Regions from separate parts of the Homo sapiens genome. Here region 2 is linked to region 1. Evidence: fine-mapped expression QTL. Tissue or cell type: skeletal muscle. Region 1 holds a variant in brackets; the other region holds the start of a gene. All regions are shown on one strand. Distances are between the middles of the regions.

Region 1 (5,421 bases):
CATACTATAAGTGGAGTGAAGGGGAAAGGAGGTGGGAACAGGTGATTTATCAGGTCTGTTAGATCTTTGATTACTGTAAGTTTATAAAATGGATAGCTGTCACTAAAACACATGTCAACAAATGTTGGAAAGTAAAGTTGGTGGTGTAAGGGAAGGCGAAAACTCACTGTCCTTTTAATTTTGTTTCCTTGTTCCAAACCTGGATTATAAAATATATCAAATAAAATGCAGACAAAACGCTGGACGGGGGCAACCACTGCTTTTAAGGTATGTGAGCTGAGGGCAGTAAATCTACTCAAATTAAAATTTCAAAACTGTGTGATCTGCATTCTTGTCCACCTACAGACTATCCTAAACATCCTGCCATTAATTAGCTGAACAGCCCATCTAGTAAACAAGACCGATGGTTGAGGGGCTGGAAAAGAGGAGGAGTCAGCAAGTTGAAAGTCACAACAGACCAGCCCACTCCCTCAGATAAAAGAAAGGTAAATTTGTATTTTATTTTGTTCACAAGAAATCACCTTAATATAACATTGCCTTTCCTGTTGTTGCAGGCACATCACAGTTGTCACATCAGCAGGCTAGAAAAGCCATCCCATTCCTGCGGTAGGCATTCTGTCAAAGAAAAAGAAATCTGCAATGAATTATCACATGAAGTCAAACAAGGAAAGGAGGCAAAAAGCAAGCAGAGCCCTCTTCCTGTTTTGTAGACTCTGCTGGCTACAATCTAATAGAATGCTTAATCTGAATATTTCTGGTGGCAAAACTATAGCAACCATTCTGTCTATTAAAAAGTCAGTGTGGTTAACAAGTGGTTAGTGATTCTATTTTTGGGAAGTAGCAGATACATAAAATAAGACATCCCATTTTGTTAACTGATTGGGCTTGGTTAGGCCAAAGAGATGTATTGAATCTGTTTGTCTTTTATAAACATGTGTTCTCTATTCGATATGCTCAGGAATCACTTCTAACTAACTAAGTATCTTAATAGTCTATAAATTACTGACTCATTACTGGCCCTTCCCGGGCCTAATTTATAGTCTGAGTGAAAAGCTGTCGGAACAGACACTAATAGAGGCCTCTCCTCCTCCCTAAAATATGATGATCTCAAAGGAGTTCTGTATAGTTCTGCATATTGTAGACAGTATCAAAAATGCAAATCTTATATAATTTTATATACATACCTGTACGTACAGATGTACACATGGATATGCATGGTGGGATAAAATACTCCCATAAAAGAAAATGGGAAAATGGATTCTAAGTGCAATAATTAATACGTTTCAGTAAAGAAAGAAAAGTTGCATGCTTTTCATTCCAAGAGACATATTTTGCATTTCAGTGTTGGGAGACCTGGATCACACAGGGTCTCTGTAACATCCTGAATTCCACCATAAGACCCAGAGGGGAGCAGAACTAAAATTCAGGACTTAGGAATAAAATTTCCCTTTCCCTGGCACATTTTTAATCATTTAAACTAGTAACAGTCACATCCAGAGAATTCATAACCGTCAATCTTTTCAGAAAAACAAAGAAAATCATAAAATTCAGGTTAGGGATTTTTCCCCCTTAGGCTAATAACTCTGAAGCAGTTCTGGAGTCTGTATACTTCCAGCCCAATGAATTAACCTTGAACAGCCACAGCCATATTTTAAGAAATACAGAATAACCTTTTACGATCAAGATAATGCTATGGAGGCAGTGAAATCTTCATCTTAAAAAATAATTAAACCACATTTATAATTAATTATACTAAAAATGGAAAGTAGACTTAACCCTTTTAGAAAGACTTCCATCAACATGAGGTGAAACAAATATAGTTTTCTAGATAACCTTCTCTTAATCATAAAATTCAATTAACTTGAAAACCTTCTCTCCAAATATCCTGCTTAAGAAGATTTACTGTGCTTGTCAGGCTTTGGCGCCCTGGCTGAAATTTCTTTGCTTAGTTATGCTGCTATGCAGTTCACTCCAGATCAGTGTATCAGGGATGACAAAACAGTGGCACATTCCAAGTGTCATTCCTCAGTGTTCTTTCTGTGAGCTTGTTCTTTACCATGGGGCTTTTTGTGTTGTAGAACACTTCTGGATTGAAGAAAACATTCTAACAAGGACTAGAAAATTCCAACTCTACTTCCTAAAATTGCGCTATAGAACAGTGTTAAGTGAATGCCTCAGAGAGCCACAAATAACTTGCAGGAATGCATAGGGTGTCTTCCCACAACCACAGGCAGTGGAGCCTCAGTCTGTGAAACAAACAGCTCCTACCACCACGGCTGCCTTACAGAGAGGCTTATGCCAAAGTAATACTCTTAGCTTCTTGACCTTGATATTTTAAATTTTATAACCACAGTGACAATCTTTAACATCATGTATTATTTAAAGCACAGGGATGGTTTTATATGGAGTTAAATGGACCTAGGAGTAAGGCTGCATTCCTTCTAAACATACAGTGTTGAAGTGAGCCTTGCTTGAGAAAGGAGGTTTTGGCTTAGAGGGAGACTGAGTCTTAGCTGAGTTCACCTGAGAAATAACCAGGTTTTAATCTTTTCAGACGGGGCAATATAAAATAGTTCTTATTAGCATGGAAAAGGTCACTTTTGAAAGATCGATTCACCTTCACAGATGATTTATCACTGCTTTGCAAACAAAAGATTTTTTTTTAATAACTTATTTA[A/G]TAACACAGATCCTATGAGAAAACCAAAGTTTAGAGTTGACCCAGATTTCTGTGATGTTCTTCCCATTTGAATTCTGAAATAAATAAAGAAGGAACAAACAAGCATGTGTAATTAGTGAAGAGCAATTTCAGTAAACATATTCCCTAGGGTACTCTATTTTGAGTCACTGCTTTTTCCTTTTGATGTACAAAGGATGTACATTGTCTATGTAGGGCAATTATGGGAACGTCCCAACTTTGGCATGCTTTCCAGAATAAGCAACTTTACAGGAAGATGGATGAAGACAACAACTCATCTTCACGTCAACTGTAAATTTCTCTCTATTTGTGTTGCAAATGTTGAAACTAAATTTAAACATTGCTTGGTGTGAGGGCCTTCCAGAGGCCACATTCTCATGGAATACTTTGTATCCCACTTACTTTCTTCTGTCAGACCCTATGAATGATTCCCAGTTCTGTATCTATCTTTACAGACACTCCTAGTTAGTAAAATCCAGGCTTTGACCAGAAAGAGTCAGGACTTCCACCCACTACTGAAAATTATAGCTTAATCAATAACACAATTAGACCTCCCCAACAAACTGGATCCTACGTGCCTATATACTACTTAAGGTTCATTTCTGGTTTAATAAAGCTCTGTTCTCAACATCAGTTGCTCCTTTGTGAATTTGCTGAAAAGCTCAGACATTTTAGCATCTCTTAAAGTTCACAGCAAAGACAATACTTAATGTGTTTAAGGCCCAATTAGTTATAAAATTAGGAATTCATAGTTCCCATTTTTTTTAATTGAGGACCCAATTTTTGACATTCATTTATTCATACAGTGCCAAATTACGACCTGTGCCAGAATGTCAATCTACCTGGATAAGCAGATACAGATTTTACCTACTGCACTGGGCACTGTGGGGTAATTAATTTCTAAGTGTGTACTTTTTAAAGTGACTGTTTTTTACTTCATATGGACAAGGTAGAGAAAACATTTAAATCCCATAGTGGTTTACTTCTGTTTTTTATGGGTTATCATAAATTGATACATCTTAGGGGATACAAATGAATATTAAAAAGCAAAAGATTAATATTTTTCTTAAAAGGACACATGCTACAAAACTTACTTTGTAGTTCCGACTTAAATATTACTGCGTATTATGTTTGCCATTAGCCTACTTATTAAAACATTAACTATAAACACCAGTCTTTCTTCCAGTACAGACTTGTTTTATTCTATTACCTTTCCTGATTCTCTTCTGCTTTCTCAAATCTTAAATAAACTAGCATAAGAATCTCACTGTAGTAAGTAAGTCCCAAACTCTCCTACAAATACTTTATTTCTCAAAGGCATAAGAAAGAGGTTTTGGTTCTATTGTCTGAATTCCTATAAATTTGCTTAATATGATTTCAGCAAATTTTTACTGAGTTCTTATTCTGTAAATCACTGTGTGCTTGGTGGTACAACAGGACACTAAGATAAATAGACAGTCCCTGGCTTCACTAAACTTCCAGTTTCACATTCAAGTTTTAACCACCACAAGTAAAATGCACTGAGAGGTCATTCTCAAAGTGAGAAAGGAGGGAGAAAACAAAGCAGGCTTTTGTTTTTTTGCTTCTAATCACAATATTTAATTTGAACTTACTTACACTTTCGAAAGGCATGAGATTTGTCTATTTCTCAAAGTAGGGAGGGGCAAAGATTAAAAAATGCTGAGATACATGGTTTTATGGTTTATGAAATATTTTCATGTCTGTATCTAATTTGAGCCTTACCACAATTAGTAAAAGAGTAGATTTTGGATTTAAAACCCAGGGCCTGTGTTCTTTTCATTATACTACATTGTCTTACAATAAACAAAACAAACCAGACAGTCCCCTGCCCCAATTCCACCCAGAGCACTGTAGATACACATATTCTCTTAGTCCTAACAAACTCAGTTCTTGCTAAACATCACTTAAAGGGTAAATTACAATTTTATTTCAAATTTAAGCTAAATCAGCCAGGTATAATACTTCCGAGTACAGACAATGGACCTTAAATCTAAATCATCTTCACTTTGGAGGCTTTCTCAACTACTGCTTATTTTCCAAACTAACTTTAAGAATAGTGTATAGTATAGAACATTGCACCCAAATCACTTGGGGAGCTTTAAAAGACACAGATGCTGTAGCTCCAGTTCTTCAAAGCCAATGGGTCTGAGTGGAGATTAGGCTTTGGAATGTCTTAGAAGTATCCCAGGTGCATAGTGAGAGCTGAGAACAGTGGTAAAATGGATGAGGAGATCATTAACAGGACCCAATAATGGTTTCGTCAATAAATGGAACATTTTCAGAATCTGTCATGATTATGGAGTAAATAAATATTTCCTAATGGAAATTCTAATTTTGGCATTTAGTAAATTTAACATGGAAGAGGCAGAAATTGAAGTTTTCAGATTGTGGCTTTTATCCACAGCAGATGGGTTACCTGTATCTCTCACTTTAGGTTATCTGTAGATTAGGCATTGCTTTCCGCCCCCAAGATGCTGAGATGCCACTGTTAGGAGCACAGTCTGTCTGACTGCCACAACATGTTTAATACTATAGTGAAAAAGGAATTTGGAAACTAAGCCTGCTAAACCAAGCTGAACAAACCCTTTACTAACATCTAGAATCAAGGAACAATAGAACTTTGGAATTGGAAAGTATCTTTGTGAATTCCTCTGGCCCCATTCTTAATTTAACAGATGAAAAAACTAATGCCCAGAGAGAGTGAC
Region 2 (5,421 bases), 550 kb after region 1:
TTATTATTTAGACACAAAAACAGTAATTTTGTCACTGTTTTAAAGTATATTTCTGGCCGGGCACGGTGGCTCACACCTGTAATCCCAGAACTTTGGGAGGCTGAGGCGGGTGGAGCACTTGAGATCAAGAGTTCAAAACCAGCCTGGCCAACATAGTGAAACTCTGTCTCTACAAAAAATACAAAAATTAGCCAGGCATGCTGGCATGTGCCTGTAATCCCAGCTACTCGGGAGGCTGAGGCAGGAGAATCGCTTGAACCCAGGAGGGGGAGGTTGCAGTGAGCTGAGATCGCACCATTGTACTCCAATCTGGGCAACAAGAGTGAAACTCCATCTCAAAAATAATAAAGTATTTCTGATATTGCAATGTGGTTAATCATCCTAAAACTATATATTACAAGTCCCAACAAGGCTAACAGTAGGGTGACATTATGATGTGGTCCCAATTCGAACATTTTGATAGTGAAAGGGGTTCTATTAAATAAAATAATTGTGCTGGAACAATCAGGCTTTATACTACGACTGTCTCAGAAAAATTAAGATACTATAGTCACCCATAAAAGCACCCCATTCTGATTTGTATATTATGAGCTATTCTCTCCATCTGATTTAACTCGTGAGCTTTAAGTTATTGCTCCAGATCTAACAATTATCTTCAGCCTTAAGACCAAGAGCATCATTTTTTTTTTTAAAGAGACAAGGTCTCCCTCTGCAGCCCAGGCTGGAAGCCTGGCCTGACCATGATTCACTGCAGCCTTGAACTCCTAGGTTCAAGAGATCCTCTGGCCTCAGCCTCCCAAAGTGCTGGGATTACAAGCATGAGCCAACGTGCCTGGCCCAAGGGCACCATTTTACAGACATCAGGCCAAGGTTAAGGGTGCTACCGCTACCTATAAAGGTTTTTTATTTGTTCTTTTAGTTTTATTTTCAAATTTGACTTTATATACACTTGCTTTAAAAAAAAAAAACAGATGCACATATTTCAAGTAAAGTAATTTTGTGAAACATCTATTACCTAATTTCACTTATCTCTCCAAAAGATTTGGATAACCATAAAACTAGTTCTAAAATGTCCTAATGCTCAAGAGTTACAATTTTTCAAATCGCTTTATTACACAAAAGGTTAAAAAAGAAAAAAACTTGAATAAGAGCTGGAAACTTCTCACTGAAAAACCAACCAAAGTGGTAAAAGATAGCAGAAACCGACAATCACAAAATAGTACAATAATGTTTAAAGAAAACTCCAGTTAATACTGTCATAGCTCTCTGAATCTGGCATTAGCTGTACAACCTAGGAGACAACGTTTTGCTTTAATTTGTCAAGATGTAAATAAGTACTAACAGACCCATGGTCTGAACTGCAGTATTTGAATGAAAGGCATTATTTGAATATAATTACAATTCCCTATGGCAATAAATGTTCCAAAGAGCTGGCTTATCTGATTTAAAACTCAACCATATCAAGACTCGGAAGGACTCTCAAAATCTAAATTGTAGCCCTGTGCTGTCCAATGCAGTAGCTACCACTAGCCACATGTGGGTATTTAAACGTAAATCAATTTATTAATTTATGAATAAAATTAAAAATTAAGTTCCTCAGTGACACTTATCACATTTCAAGTGCTGAAGAGCCACTGTGCCTAGGCTACCACTAGTGCCTAAAGGCACAGATTATGGAACATCTCCATCAAGGCAGAAACTGCTAGTGAAAAGTGCAGCCCTAGACTTAGGCATACTTCGCTCCAACGTCCCGAATATCCTGAGATAAGAAACTTTCCATAGCACAATGAAGAGCATTCCATTCTTGCAAAGTACTCTCACGAACTGTTTCTCATAGGCAAATTCAGCCTCTTTGAAACATTCACCAGAAATTCCCCAAGTTTTGTCCTTCAAGTAAATCTTTGCAGGGCGAATTTAATTCCTCTTCCAGAGTCTGCCCTTCACATATACTAAGACCCCAGGTCCTCTCCTTCCAAATACATACATACATATATACACATACATATACTTATATACACACATATGTATATACATATATATACACACACATTTCTTTCTACCGAAATAACTTAACATTTCTATTAGCCTCTTGGAGAAATGCTAATTTATCCACGTGTACAGTAATACTACGTCCAGGATCGTCTGAGTGTCAAATATTACATATCACTGTCTTCATAACTTCACTCTCACGTGTGAGACCAAGTGTCCTGATTCTCTGAGAAAATAAGGTCACAGTCATTCTGAACTCCTAAAACGTGGAGAGCAAAAGCAGAGCTAATATGTACTGAGCAGCACCTGGCGCTGTTCTAAGCGTTTAACGTGTATTTTCTCATATAATCCTCACAATTCTGAAATAGGCTATAAGATCGCCATTTTACAGACCAAAACAAGGCAAAGACAAGCTAAATAATTTCCCCAGGGGTCACAGACGTGAGCTCACCCCACAGAGAACACAGCGGATCTTTTCCTCTTTCTGGATGCTACACTCCCACTAACTACCTAACTCTTCTCTCGCCGTGCCATAAAGCAACAATTTCCCTCTTTAATGATTCCTCCGGCAGCCCCCACACTACCTAGACGACCCGCGCACCCCGCTTCTCAGCACAGCCCAGCCCCCCTCACCCCACGCCCACCCGCCAAAAGGGAGGAGTCGAGAGGCAACTCCACGCTCGGCAGCGGAACCAGGGCGCTGCGCCCGGCCAGCGCCTCCCACAGCCGCCCTCCCTTCAACACTCCGGCGTAGACCACGAAGACCCAGGCAGCCGCCCTCGAGCCGGGGCCAGGGCGTGGCCGGCGCGGGGGCCCAGCGACGCTGGGATCTCCGCTCTGCGTCCCTCCCGGCTCTCTGACGTCTCCCCCGCCCGAATCCCCGCACCGCCCCCCGCAAGCCCTACAACCTCTGCTTTAAGAACCCTTGGAGGCACTGCTGCGCTTCCCGCGAGGAGAATGTGGGGGTGGAGATGGTGCGGTTTCTGCTGCTGCGGCCCGGGACACGCTTGGAAAGGGGCGGGGTGGGGGACTGAGAGTGTGGAGTGTAGAAAGGGAAAAGGTGACTCGGCTGTGTGACGGGGCGATGGGGGGGGTACAAGATGGCGTGAGCCCGACTCTCGGTGGGGCGGGGGTTGCGGAGACTGAGGAGTAAGCGATACGGACGCCCCCCGCACTGGCAGTGCGGGCGCATGCGCGCTTGGCCAGGTGGCGCGCGCTCTCCCAGCCCGAGCGAGCTACTTCCGCCACGCTCGCCGGGGGCGGGGCGTTGTGCGCGGCCTTCAGGGCCCGGCTTGGGCAGCGCTGAGCCACGCGGCGGCGTTTAGAGCTGGGGACGCTGGGAGCGGAGTGGGGACGAGCTGAGATCGGTCAGGGTGTACAGGGTGCAGGCTTGAATTCTTTAGGAATTGGGCCCGAGAGGGCTAGGATTTTTGAAGGATTGGGTGACCGGCACTGGAAGTTGATTTTCAACTCCGAGGAAGAGATTCACCGTTCTAAGCTTCTTTCCAGGAATTGGAGTGAACGGGATCTTAATGGGATTGCGCGTTTACAATGGTGAAGGGAAACGGAGGGGTCTGAACGCTCCCCGCAGGGCCGCAGTACAGGCGTGTGGATGTGGAACCCTTTCTGGGACGGCGAAACCAGCTCTTACGCCGCTTCCGCGCGCCATCACTCCCTACCCTGACCTCGCACAGAATCTGTTTCATTAATCTGCTATTAATGTTTTTTCCCCAACTCATGTTACTAGACGCAGGCGTTTAACTACCATGTTTTGTTATTGAAAACTTTTTCTACTTGAAGGCTTTTTTTTTTTTTTGGACGATTCTGTGTTTAGATTTTGGCCTGTTCCTCATTTTAAAATCTTGCACCCCCAGTATTGTACTGTACATTCTGTCCTGCCACATTTAATTGATATAGATGTAGTTCTTTAAATAATACAGTAGTCGTAAGACAATGCTTTCAGTCTTTCACTCTTTATATTATATGAAGTCTTATTTATATTTAACATTCTTATTGCCTGCTTAGAGAAGAAAACTGGTTATCCATGCTCACCTTCACACCTGTGTTGTCAAATACTATAAAATACTGTATTTTATAGGGATTCAAGTATTAACCCTCACCAAGTCTTTTTAAGCATCACTGCTTCAGTTATTTTCTTGCCTATAGATACTGTGAGTTCTGAAATCCCTTCCTTCTATTTGCTTAAATTGTTTAAAATAGCAACTTATTTGGTTATTTCCTCTGTGGATTGTAGTTGAGTCTGCTAGTGTTGTGTTTGATTCTCTTTAATCTCCCCAACGCTTCAATATTTGCCAAATACCTAAAATTCCAAAAGAATAGATATATTTAGGATGTGAGAGCTCAGCTTGATGTGTAAATCAGGGATCAATTCATTGCTGAGCAAAGTGTGCAGTATAAGGGAAAGTAACAGAGTGAGTATGGTGATAACTTCTTACATGGGAAGACTGGTTGAAAGCTCTTTTGAGTACATTACCAAGAAATTAGTTAACAGAAGATTAAGAGAAAAATTAATGTTCACATCTAAAGAAACATAAAAGTAGATCATTTCAATTAAAATTATGTTCAGTTAATGTTATCATAGAAGTTCCTGCACTGGAGTTTCACCTGCATCAGATGAGTACCTGTTTGATCCAGTTTATCAGGATAGAATCCAGATCATCTTATTCTAGGATACTGGTGTCCAGCCTGCATAAAATCACACACAGGCCAGGCGCGGTGGCTCACGCCTGTAATCCCAGCACTTTGGGAGGCCGAGACGGGCAGATCACAAGGTCAGGAGATCGAAACCATCCTGGCCAACATGATGAAACCCCGTCTCTACTAAAAATACAAAAAAGTATCCGGGCGTGGTGGCACGTGCCTGTAGTCCCAGCTACTCGGGAGGCTGAGGCAGGAGAATCGCTTGAACCTGGGAGGCGGAGGTTGCAGGGAGCCGAGATCACGCCGCTGCTCTCCAGCCTGGCAACAGAACTAGACTCCGTCAAAAAAAGAAAAAAAAAAATCACGCACAACAAAAGTTAATGAGAGTGACACATGGAGAAGGGAAACTGAGTTAAGGCATTGATACAGGAAGTTTAAAAATTTATTCTTAGGAAACTGAATTGGGCTGTTGGCAGAGATCTGATTTTTAAAGTCACATGAGTTAACCAGGTTCCTACCTCCTGGAATTTCTTAAAATCCATTTTTGAAAATCTGATTTAGCCATAATTTTGCTCATAGTTTGAGACCATTGCTATATACAAAGGGCCAAAAATATTTTTGCATTACATTCATATCAAATATCCTAAACTATCAATGGTACTAGGGTATCTTAATTATAACAAAGCTAAAACAGCGAAGCTGTTGCTGAAGTTAAGGCTTTGATGACTACCACCTCTCAGAAAAACAAGTGATTTTCCAAGGCATGTGGGG

Alleles and levels. Alleles are on the strand shown, and positions count from the first base shown. SD is a standard deviation of normalised expression in the study named.
For the expression in skeletal muscle of the gene that starts at base 3,064 in region 2, A is the high allele of the variant in region 1 and G is the other (moderate effect, 0.49 SD a copy in FUSION).

The links. PIP is the estimated chance that this variant, and not a neighbour inherited with it, causes the effect.
Region 2: it holds the start of SUPT3H, and the variant in region 1 is fine-mapped to the expression of SUPT3H in skeletal muscle (FUSION, PIP 0.95).

What each region holds. Positions count from the first base shown.
Region 1 is chr6:44,829,243-44,834,663 of GRCh38, forward strand. SUPT3H (SPT3 homolog, SAGA and STAGA complex component) reads right to left here. Exons shown (of 11, transcript NM_003599.4): 11 at 1-615. The coding sequence ends at 574. LOC101929770 (a long non-coding RNA gene) reads left to right here. Exons shown (of 3, transcript XR_926855.3): 3 at 346-3,868. Among named protein-coding and RNA genes, the nearest start is that of MIR586, 370 kb to the right of the region's middle. The variant A/G (reference allele first, on the strand shown) is at 2,678.
Region 2 is chr6:45,374,871-45,380,291 of GRCh38, forward strand. SUPT3H (SPT3 homolog, SAGA and STAGA complex component) reads right to left here and starts at 3,064. Exons shown (of 11, transcript NM_003599.4): 1 at 2,898-3,064. The region is part of intron 2 of RUNX2 (RUNX family transcription factor 2); the gene reads left to right. RefSeq lists silencers at 2,706-2,985, 3,306-3,355 and an enhancer at 2,996-3,539.